Homo sapiens: one gene and its partners. The protein of the gene in region 3 interacts with the protein of the main gene of each other region in a pairwise test. Each region holds a gene or a part of one and is shown on either strand. Other genes may lie near its edges.

Region 1 (4,295 bases), on a different chromosome or scaffold from region 3:
GTCACATACCCTCTCTACCTCCATCATACCTCCAGCCAAGCTGTCCTCAAATTAATACCAGCCATGCACAAAATGTGAACAATTACACAAGACACACAGAAGGTCTAAGTGGTAAATGGCAGCTGACTCACTGACTAACCTGTATATTCCATGAACTGATGAGCAGGGATTTACTAGGTATAACAGAAGAATCAGCAGCTAAAAGAAGTGCTAACAATGCAGGACTCTGAGAGGGCTTTTTGGAAACACAACATTTATTGTGAAATTACACAGACAAGAATGAAACAAAGGTGGTGAGAATTATAGCTTATTACTTAGAAGATTAAATAAAGGAAATCTTACCAAATTCCTGGGGAAAAAAGCCAGATATATAAAGAAAATTACACAAAATGAGCTTGACTCAGAAAATAAAATATGAACAAAGAAGTACCAGAAAGAACGTCAGGGAGGAATGCATATCAGAATATTGTAGAAAAAATACTCTTTGTGGAAGAACAATCTGAGAAAACAGGTAACACAAATACTGACTAAACCAAGAAAACCAATACAATGCAATTGAGGCTTTAATGAGGGTATCTGATTACCTTATTTGAATGTAGAATTGTAGCCACTTAATTATCAGAGGTAGGAATTCAATACAATTCTTAAAAGAAATGAAGCAGAGGGTGAATTTTGTAGAATATTCTAGAGAAAGGGAAGAGCATGAAGGAAGTTTTGGCAACATGATATTGCATGGTTCCTGCAAGGAACTATATATTCAGTTTTCTCAGGTCTAGAAATTTCCTCGTGGTTTGTGTGTCCATTTTGCATTCATAACCCCTAAAGATACTTTAAAATACACAATTTTGGCCTTCCTGTGTTTCACAACAAGAAGCCTTTCCTGACTTGAGTGAGATCCACAGAAGCATGAACAATAGCTGTAGCCTGAGTAGGCTGTGAGGCAGCCTTCTGTCATCTGTGTGCCCAGGAGTGTGCTGTCCTCAAACATCTCCCAGATAGCAGAAACTATCTCTATCGCATCAAAAGTTAAGCTAAATGTGATACTCTCTGTACACACACATCACGAGAGATGGAAATAGGCTATAAAAACAGCCAGAGATATTGATCATCATCACCGCTGGCTGTAGCTTCACTGCCCACACACACATACACAGAAATAAATAGCAAAGTTGAAAGTGGACAATAGTCTTACCAAAAAGATTGAAACTCTAATGACGTCTGAAGTTCAATTATGACACCGTGCTGATTGCTTGGACACAGTTCCTTTAAAACCTTTGTTCAAGTCATAGTTGTACCTTTTAGAAATAAGGTACAAACAACATCCAACCCAACCTGTTCCTCTGGGCTAGAGTCCCAGACAGAAATAAGGGATACACCTGACCTGCAGTAAGGAAAGCAGAACCCAGTCTCTGGGGTGGTGAGGCCCACCCAGTGTGGAGCTCAAAGGTGCCACTGTTCTGCTCCTCTTTATAAAGGGAGCTGCCATGGTTCTCCCAGCACAGAGTTGGGAGTGACTCCAGAGCCTCCAGCAAGATGCTACTGATTCTGCTGTCGGTGGCCCTGCTGGCCCTGAGCTCAGCTCAGAGCTTAAATGAAGGTAAGACAGAAGGAGGAGAAGATGTGGTGACTCTGCTTGGGGCTTAGGAGGTGATAGTTGTAATTATGGGGAAGAGAGGAGAATGAAAACACAGATGGGGCTGCAGAGGTTTCATGCCTAGGATCAGGAGACCTGTTGTGCCCTCATTCCACACCAAGGGCTTCTAATTTATTTAATGTACAATGAAAATCCAATAAAGAATTTGTACCAGGGGAATGAGAAGGTAAGATTTGCATTTATAGAGAGATAGAACTGTGCTGTGAAGGATGCAGTGGTGAATGCAAGGCAGATTCAGGAAAGTCCAGCTGTGAAGATCCTAAACTGATCTCAGTAAGTACACAGGGATGATTGTGGCCTTGCTCTACCTAGTGGATCAGCATTGATGATGGAGATAAACACACATTAGAGATACTGCAGAGACAGAACTGGATAAAACACTTGCCTGTGTCTAACTACAGATATAGAAATATCAGATTCAATCATTGTGATTTTTCTTTCCCCTACACACAGTATTTCAATGTGCTGGGAGTGGTATAGGTAAGATTGTATTGAAACAATTACTTCTGGTTACCGAAATTGAGAAAGCTTGTGAATATAAGCAATGTATTTATAGGAGATGGAGGGCATAAGAATACCAAAATATCACATTGAAGTACCTGGCATGTGTAAACTAAATTAGCATTAAGTCTTGAAGGATGCTAGGGAAGAAAAAAAGGGGCTCTTCTATATTGAGTTCATGGCTGTTGCTCTGTGTGGTAACAACCCTGCCTCCCCTTACACCTTCCTCCCCTTCCAGCAGCTTCACAGATGGTAGCTGATGAGCTAACCTAGGGGATGCATGGGGTGTGGTGAGAAGTCCCCTTTCCCTGTAGAACACCTGTGAATCTTGCAAAATTCGAGATGTAACCTTTCCCATCATCCTGTGCTTCTCTTCTAGATGTCAGCCAGGAAGAATCTCCCTCCGTAATATCAGGTAAATCCCAATTCACTCTCAATCTGTTTTAACTATCTTCTTCTGCTTATGAATGGATCAGTTCTCCAGTGTCTTCTCACCAACATTTTCCTTTAGAAATTGATTAATATTAGTCCCCCTAATAATGCAGGCAATCTTCATGCAACCTTGATTTTGGGGACCATGAGCAGGGCCACCAAATTGAATGGCAGAGATGCTTGGCTTAGATGAAAACGGGAGTGGGTTGACTTCCCTCCTGCCAGGAGTGCCTGCTGGGAGATGACAGACAAATGGCCAGTGTCCTTATTCTGACTCCTCCTTAGACTGAGAGCCCCTCAACTGCTTCCTTCTTCTCCAGCATTCCACTCCAGAGTTCTAGAGCTTCACTGAAAATGCAAAGAAATTAGTGTCTGGGTCTTATTTTTGTGCATTTCCCCATTTAGCTGCGTTACTGTAAAAATTTGCGGCAACTATTCAGTGAATGCCGTGTGTCCACCTCCTCCAGGAAAGCCAGAAGGACGACGCCCACAAGGAGGAAACCAGCCCCAACGTACCCCACCTCCTCCAGGAAAGCCAGAAGGACGACCCCCACAAGGAGGCAACCAGTCCCAAGGTCCCCCACCTCGTCCAGGAAAGCCAGAAGGACCACCCCCACAAGGAGGAAACCAGTCCCAAGGTCCCCCACCTCGTCCGGGAAAGCCAGAAGGACAACCCCCACAAGGAGGAAACCAGTCCCAAGGTCCCCCACCTCGTCCGGGAAAGCCAGAAGGACCACCCCCACAAGGAGGAAACCAGTCCCAAGGTCCCCCGCCTCGTCCGGGAAAGCCAGAAGGACCACCCCCACAAGGAGGAAACCAGTCCCAAGGTCCCCCGCCTCGTCCGGGAAAGCCAGAAGGACCACCCCCACAAGGAGGAAACCAGTCCCAAGGTCCCCCGCCTCATCCGGGAAAGCCAGAAGGACCACCCCCACAAGGAGGAAACCAGTCCCAAGGTCCCCCACCTCGTCCGGGAAAGCCAGAAGGACCACCCCCACAAGGAGGAAACCAGTCCCAAGGTCCCCCACCTCGTCCGGGAAAGCCAGAAGGACCACCCCCACAAGGAGGCAACAAACCTCAAGGTCCCCCACCTCGTCCAGGAAAGCCAGAAGGACCACCCCCACAAGGAGGAAACCAGTCCCAAGGTCCCCCACCTCGTCCAGGAAAGCCAGAAGGACCACCTTCACAAGGAGGCAACAAACCTCAAGGTCCCCCACCTCATCCAGGAAAGCCACAAGGACCACCCCCACAAGAAGGTAACAAACCTCAACGTCCCCCTCCTCCAGGAAGGCCACAAGGACCACCCCCACCAGGAGGCAATCCCCAGCAGCCTCTGCCACCTCCCGCTGGAAAGCCCCAGGGACCACCTCCACCTCCTCAAGGGGGCAGACCACACAGACCTCCCCAGGGACAGCCTCCCCAGTAATCAAGGTTCAATGACAGGTATGATTCCAGTTTATTCTTCACCAAGTGCTCTAAGTGTTACAGTTCTCCAACTTTATTGTGCCAATGAATCAACTAAAAACCCATTGACATTGTATTGTCCTAGAACCCATTTCTAAAGATTTGTATTCAGATACTCTGGAATAGGGTAAGAAGACCCTGTATTTCTAACAAACTCTTTAAGGAACTCTGATGTTGAGAAACAACATACCATACAATCTGTCTTAAATTGTGTTGGCAATGAGGAAGTAGTACCATGTCCATTCTT
Region 2 (3,500 bases), on a different chromosome or scaffold from region 3:
GCTCTGTGAGTTTTCATGTAAACCAAATAAACTATACTTCAAACAAAAAGTGACCCTTTGTGAATAAAAATTTCCTTATGAAGAAAGGAAAAGAAAATCATACAGTTCTTTGCTAATCCAAAAGCTTTTCCACTAGAAAATAAATGTATCACTAATCAGATACTTGGGAAATGTTCTGTATTTACTGTACCTGAATGACTTTTAAAATTAATATAACTTTTGGGTATTAAATCTTTGTAAATGAATCGACCACATTTATTAAAAAAAAAATTAGGCCTGATGAACAATCCCAGCCTACCTGGGAAATGAAAGCCTTTATTAGTTTTATTTGTGGATTAGTTTTAAACTAGAATGTCATTCATTTTGACTTTTATCAAACAAATCTAAAATGTCTTTCAGGTGTAAAACATTAATGAACCACGATTCACACATGCTAACAAATGTAAATGGTTACCTCCAAATTCCTTTCTAGTGGGTGCAGGACTCCTAGCCCCTTATAGTTCATAAGAAAATAGGCAGCAGAAAGGAAATGACATTAAATACAGAAGTGAAATGTCAAAGATTGCTATAGTATCCATGACATCAAGTATCATGCAGGAATTACATATTATCTACGTACTACAAAAACTATTATTCAATGCATATGCTTATAATTGAAGTAACAGCACTATATTTAATTTAAAAGAACATTAAACAAATACATACAATTGTACATTAATACGTATGCTCTCCAGTTTTATTATACTTTTACAGAAATTAGTACATTTTAATTATTTTATGCTTATAAATCATCCAGAAATGAGGATTTTGAAAAAAATTAAACCTAATTTTACCTAAGAACAGTTTACATGCCTAACTAGATCAAATTAGCAAAAACAAAATAAACCTCTCTGGCTGGCTGGTGAGAAGGCAGCTAAAGGCAGCTGTGAAAACACCTTAGAGGAATCTACTCTGCAAACACTCTACCTTGTCTGTTGCGCCTACCATGTTCTTTAGAGAAAAGCTAAGAAATAGCAATAATGATAGAAAAAACTGTAAAATCCAGAAGCTAGAGATTGGAAAACATGCAAAACATTTTAAAATAGAGTGAAGAATTTTACATCTAGCAGAAATGGAAATAAAAGGTTGTCACCTGAAGGCGGAGGAGGTCTCTGTGGGGGAGCCGGGCGTGTGGGAGGGGCGACCGGGCGGGGCGGCGGCGGCCGCTTGGGCTCCAAGGGCTGGGCGGGGTCTTTCTGCGGCAGCGGCGTTGCTGGCTGCGCGTCAATAGGAGAACCTAAAAAGCGCACAGGAGGTAAGAAGATCAGCTTCTAAGTAGCTGTTGACAGAAGGGAACAGTCCTTCATATATATGTGTAATGTTCTATAAAATGTGCACAATGGTGTAAAGAAAGGGCATGTATTTTCAGTATGAATAACAAAAGCAGTCTACTATTAAACTGCCCTTTGGTACCATGGCAGCAATAATGCTACCTCTGTGCTGACTTCTTACCTAGGCCTCAGGTGCTGAAAGCTAATTTACTAAGTGGCCCTATTGATATGCACAAAGTATTGTTTGAGTTAAGCCATTTTGTAGTCTGGCCAGTAGAGAGAAGAAAAAGCTCAAATAGTTAACGGGTTCATACCATAGAAAATCATCAGTTATAAGACATAGACAAACCTAACCACATAGAAAAAAGATTAAGAACAATTGTCATCTAGTGACAGTTATAGCAAGTTTCCTTTCCATTGAGAGCTTATCATCTACAAGTTTTCCTATTCTGTACCGGAGAAAACAGGGTGCACTTTATCACCTAGGTATGAAACTTAAACGATGACTCTCCAACATCAAGCACATTGGCCACAGGAAGCCATACAAAACTTTCAAATAAAATGCATACTCTGTGCACTGGGAGGCCCAGGAGTTCTTGACGGTGCTCGGCTTGGTCTGATGGGAAGGGAAGGTACAGGACCCTCTGATATTGTAGGTGACTGGCAGGGACTAGTTCGGGGTGAAGAGCTGGGGGAAGTACCAAGGCCGGAACTTGAAGATGGCTGGAGATGCTGAGGAAGAAGTTCCTCCACTTCAGCACTATAGTCATCAACATCACCTAAGGAAAAGCAGGCTTGATCAGAGATAACTCCATTTTAACTTGCTCAGAGATTTTTTTCACCTTAGGTTTTAAAAAGTTAAAATACACAAAACAAATATGAACATTATGTCATTGCAAACACACATGGATTAAGCATGAAGGCATGTATAAAACCACAATTAGTAGAAATGCTTGTTTCAGAAGATGTAAAGGTATCTATTGTCTCTGAGCAATAAGATGTCAGGTGACCAACCACTTGGAGCTGGGGTGACCCAATGGGCTTTCAATATGCCCCAGAGCAGCTTCTCCAGTGCAAGCCAACTCAAGTTTCCTGCTCTCCTTCCAAACCTGTCCACTGTGCTCTGTGGAACTGCCCCACTCCCTTGCCTAACCCAGGTCCAGCCTCAGAGTCAACAAGCTCTCAGGAGCCACACAGTCTTCCCCCAGAAGGCTCCTCCCTGCAACCCTCACCCCACAAAGACCCGCTTTGCTTTAATTAAGTAAACACTGGTTCTCCCCCAGGGTCTCCTCATCTCCACTTACTTCTGGGTAGGAAAGTGGGCACAAGGTAACCCTTGCAACCTAACTGCCATTCCAGAACATTAGTCTTCCAACCCTGAACAAAAAGTCCTACTGCTCTGAGGCTATGCCATCAGGAATTTATGTAACATCCTCTACCCCCACTTGCTACAGTCATCTCCAACGTCCATTCTTCCATTTCCTGAACCCACTCACTGAGGACTAAGCAGAGAGCAAGACTGTAAGTCAGGTCCCGCACCATCTTTCTGCGTGGCATCAAAGTCCATGTGGACAACTCGTTCAATAGCAAAATGCCTTGGTCCTATCCTTATGGACATTCGCCTTCACTCCTAACCCTCACCCCTCAGAACTGCACTCTTCTGAAATAATAAACTCAAAAGCTTCACTCTGACTTTGGCCTCCCAGCTTTTCAGTTCTCTCCCTTGGCTACTCCTTCTCTTTTGATTTCTTCAGAAGCCAGGGTTTGATCCCTCTAACTTTTACCTCCATCTGATTCTGCTTTCTTCTGTACCTACCTTCAGATTCTATGGTTCTTCATCTCAAACATTACCCTACTTCACTCTTCTTCCATTGCACGTGCTTGACATAACCCCATCCCTGCACTGATTCCCCTGTTTAATCTTTCTGTGATAACACTTGGATTGCTGACTGCCTCTGCTAAAGAAAACCACCCAGTCCTGACAACTGCAGTCACATTTGAAATTATGCTTTTCAGTCTCTTCTGGCCTAAAGTGCCTGGCAATTCCATGATTTGCTGGTTTGCTCTTCCCCTCACCCTTTGCTCTTCAGGAGCTTTACTGCAAAACTCCTTAACCCTCCTGAAACTGTGAGCTGTCCCACTCCTGCAGATCACTTCAACACTTCACAGAGAAGAGGGAAGTCTTAAGAT
Region 3 (3,500 bases):
TCAGTGGATACATATACCAATAACCCTCATTTTATGTAATGAACATCTCTGACATGTGAATAAACCAATATTTTTAAATGGAATTATATTATCAGTGTACTAATAGTTAAGTGGTACTCAAATGCTATAGCAGATCATTTTATAAAGTTGAAAATGTTTTAACATTGGAAAATTACTTAATTTTTCTGTTTTTGAATCCAAATTTTTATATTAATACAAGGTTAATTTAGCTACGTGGCTTTAAGATCAAAGTTCTAATTCATGCTGCCTTTTTGTAATTTTTAAAGTTTCTCCTTAATACTATATGGATCTTAATTTCTTTGAAAATGTAGCTTTTATCTTTTATGTACTATATCCTAAATTAATTGAAATTGCCAAAATATTTGCCCTGCTAATAGATAGCAATAAAATCTCTTTCAAATATCTAATTTATTTTGTCAGTTACAGGATGTGAGGATATTTATGATGTTGTGTTTAGCACTGCAAAAATAGCAAACACAAAAAACATTCATGGGAATAGAGAGGCCTCGTGCCCATCTGTTGAGTGACTGACTTTTGTTCATTGCTCCTGTGTGCCCCGAATTCCTAGAGATAACCTCTGTGTACACTGACTCTGTTTAACACTTGCTCGTCTATCCAGGCACATAGATCAAAATGCTTACCTTCCCATTGTTTTCCACGTTAACAGCTCACGTAATTGCGAAGGCTAAAGGCCTTGCAATTCTGTCTGTGATCAAAGCCGGGTTCCTGGTGACTGCCAGAGGAGGCAGCGGGATTGTAGTGGCGCGCCTTCCAGATGGAAGTAAGTTGGCGTCTGTTCACTGGAGTAGAGAGTCTTCATTCTTTGTTCTGTCTGTTTTCATGTGAACACATTGCATAGCGAGTAGGACAGGTTTCCTGCATATCAACTAAAACTTATGTAATAAGGGCTACTCGACTGAACGTGCAGTTTGGTGTCAGTGAACAAGCCACAGGAACCAGCCTTTCCGTCTCTCTCTGTCCTCAAAATATTAGAGAAGACAAGACAGGTAGATATAACTTTGTTTTGCATGCATTTTGTAATTCTTCCGTGGAGCAAATATTGAAACATGGCAGTATGTGCATTTCTTTTGTTTAATATGAATTCTTATTCCTCAACTTCATGGTGTAGCTGCTTTCTTTTGTTTTATGGAAATTGATATGAAAATAAGGGGCCATATGTGAATTTCTTTGTTTCTGTGGTAGATCATAAAAACTGTGACATTTGAAGAGTTTTCCCCAAGGCAGAATCATATCAAGAGCAGTATCATCGAGTTTTACTTTCTGGGATGAAATCTACTACTTGATTCTTTAGAGATGAAATCAAAATATTTGCCATGAATCCCAAGTACTAACATTTATAGTAGTATTTAAAATGGACACAGGTGTGTCAAAACTAACTAAAATGTTTTTTATACCAATTTAACATTTGCTGTTCAGTGAACACGTTTTTCTATTAGTAGCAGTTTTTTAGCATAATTTTATTTTATTTTGAGAGAGCATGGGACACTTACAGACAATAAATATACAATATATACATTTGTGAAATATATGGCCTTGAAATAGCAGTCAGCAGATTCACCATTTCTTACCAAGGTATCCCCGCAGTCAACAAAAACCTCTTCCTTATTATGTGGATCAGTTTTCATAGCTCAATGTGTGGCTTTGAAAATGAGAAGAAAATAATTCTCTTTTTCTCAAGCATTATCCAAATTTCCATGAGCAGACTTCTCAGCAGTAAAACCAAACAAAGTAGAGGCACATTCCAAGGGAGCCCATTGTCAGATGGGACTCAGAGTCTGTGAGAAAGTCCCTGCATGTCTCAGGTCCCCAACTGCTCCATTGATGGGGTGACTTGCTGACCAAGGGTAGGGACAGTCAATACCAAGCCCTGGGCTCCTCTCAGAGCCCCAGCAAACCTTTCTACTGGTTTTAAAACCTACATTTCTCTCCCTTCTTCCTGAGCTGCAGCTGCTGACTCTGCTGAGAGTAATTTAAAAACTGTCCAAATAAGACACAACATGTTCCCCAGGATCCTGGCCAAGACCAGCCATCTTAACACAGGGACAGTTCCTAACATAGGGAACGAAAAATTATCAGACACTAATTTCTGTAAGCCAAACTTCTCTAAGCCTGGGTAGGATAGTTCTGGATATATTTCAGCAATATTCTAGTATCTAGCATGCATGGTAGCAACCATTTTCAAAAAGTGCTTTGGCCAGACCATCCCCCCACCAAATTGAAAATACATTTTTCTAGACTTGTTTAACATGAGTTTCTATATCAAGAAAAATAAGCATATAGTAATCCTAAAATGTGCCGTATCATGGCAAATGGAATTACTGTACTTAGTTTCTAAATGTGATTTATCTTGTTAGAATTTTAATAACCTTGAATTTATAGCCTATTTATTCTGCTTAAGCACGAGAGGTGTTAAAACAGTTTTTGCCCTCAGAAATTTACAATGGAAACAATTATTATGTTACCGTTAGATAATCAACTCTCTCGAATCCTTCTGATCTCTTAAATCTGTGACAAAATTCTAGCTGAAGACTAGACCTACAGCTAAGTTGTTCTATAAAAATATTGACAGTTGAAGTTACCAAGTGCTCTGTATGGCTAATGGTTAGGGAACCAGTAGTTGGTGGTCTTATGCATGTTGGTAGAGAAAGATTAGAGGACATGGGCTTGTGAGGCTATGAGACTCATAATGAATATCTAATACTTTAAAAATATTTTTAACTTTTTAAAAATTACATATTCTTTTTGAAGATCACTTTAAAATCAGGGGAAATACCAAGTCTCATTATTTTCAATAGAAGCACTCTTTAGATTTTAGCATTTTTCCTTCCTATATTTACATGTCGAGGGTGTTTTAATGTTAGGATAACGTTCGTTTGTTTTTTTATTAGAATGGTCTGCACCCTCAGCCATTGGGATAGCTGGCCTTGGTGGAGGATTTGAAATAGGAATTGAGGTAAGTAGCTTGTGCACGTCCATACAACTGCCATATCCTCTGAAGACACCTAAGATGCAACCTGTGAAAACTGAGAGGTTTCCTAGCGTTCTTATTGTTACCATTGGCACTTAGGAAAAATTGTTTCCTTTATTTTCTCGATGAATGTCTAACTAAAGCTATCTGATGGTTCCCATTTACTTTCCTTTTCTTTCCTTAGTAGTAGGATTTCTTTCATTCGCCATTTTATCTGCTTCTGTCTCATGCACATTTGTATAACAGGCACATCCCAACACCTGGCCAGCTGTCATTGGCAGTTTATGGACTGCTCATGGCAAAGCCACTGTTCTCCTTCAGTGGGCATTGAAATTACGTGGGCAGTGCATCATCATTTGTGGCAAAATCCAGTTTTGTAACATATGATATTCAAATCCCTCCACATTCTTTAAGTAAAGAAGAACTTCACGTTATTTCAGTTTATAATGTTGCTCCTGGGATTGTGGCGTCTGTCGGGCAGACATGCACA

The links. Proteins that work in one complex are often made in the same cells at the same time.
Region 1: the proteins of SH3YL1 (region 3) and PRB3 interact in a two-hybrid assay, tested with the Homo sapiens proteins (one large-scale study listed by BioGRID).
Region 2: the proteins of SH3YL1 (region 3) and SYNJ1 interact in a two-hybrid assay, tested with the Homo sapiens proteins (one large-scale study listed by BioGRID and IntAct).

The regions. Positions count from the first base shown.
Region 1 is NC_000012.12:11,266,908-11,271,202, reverse strand, and holds the start of PRB3 (basic salivary proline-rich protein 3 isoform 2 precursor), read left to right. Parts: upstream 1-1,495; 5' UTR 1,496-1,533; coding exon 1,534-1,597; intron 1,598-2,534; coding exon 2,535-2,570; intron 2,571-3,054; coding exon 3,055-4,010; 3' UTR 4,011-4,027; intron 4,028-4,295. UniProt on the Homo sapiens protein: Acts as a receptor for the Gram-negative bacterium F.nucleatum.
Region 2 is NC_000021.9:32,644,514-32,648,013, forward strand, and holds part of SYNJ1 (synaptojanin-1), read right to left. Parts: intron 2,090-3,500; coding exon 1,880-2,089; intron 1,277-1,879; coding exon 1,133-1,276; intron 494-1,132; coding exon 455-493; intron 1-454. UniProt on the Homo sapiens protein: Phosphatase that acts on various phosphoinositides, including phosphatidylinositol 4-phosphate, phosphatidylinositol (4,5)-bisphosphate and phosphatidylinositol (3,4,5)-trisphosphate. Has a role in clathrin-mediated endocytosis.
Region 3 is NC_000002.12:247,033-250,532, reverse strand, and holds part of SH3YL1 (SH3 domain-containing YSC84-like protein 1), read left to right. Parts: intron 1-688; coding exon 689-802; intron 803-2,930; coding exon 2,931-2,995; intron 2,996-3,500.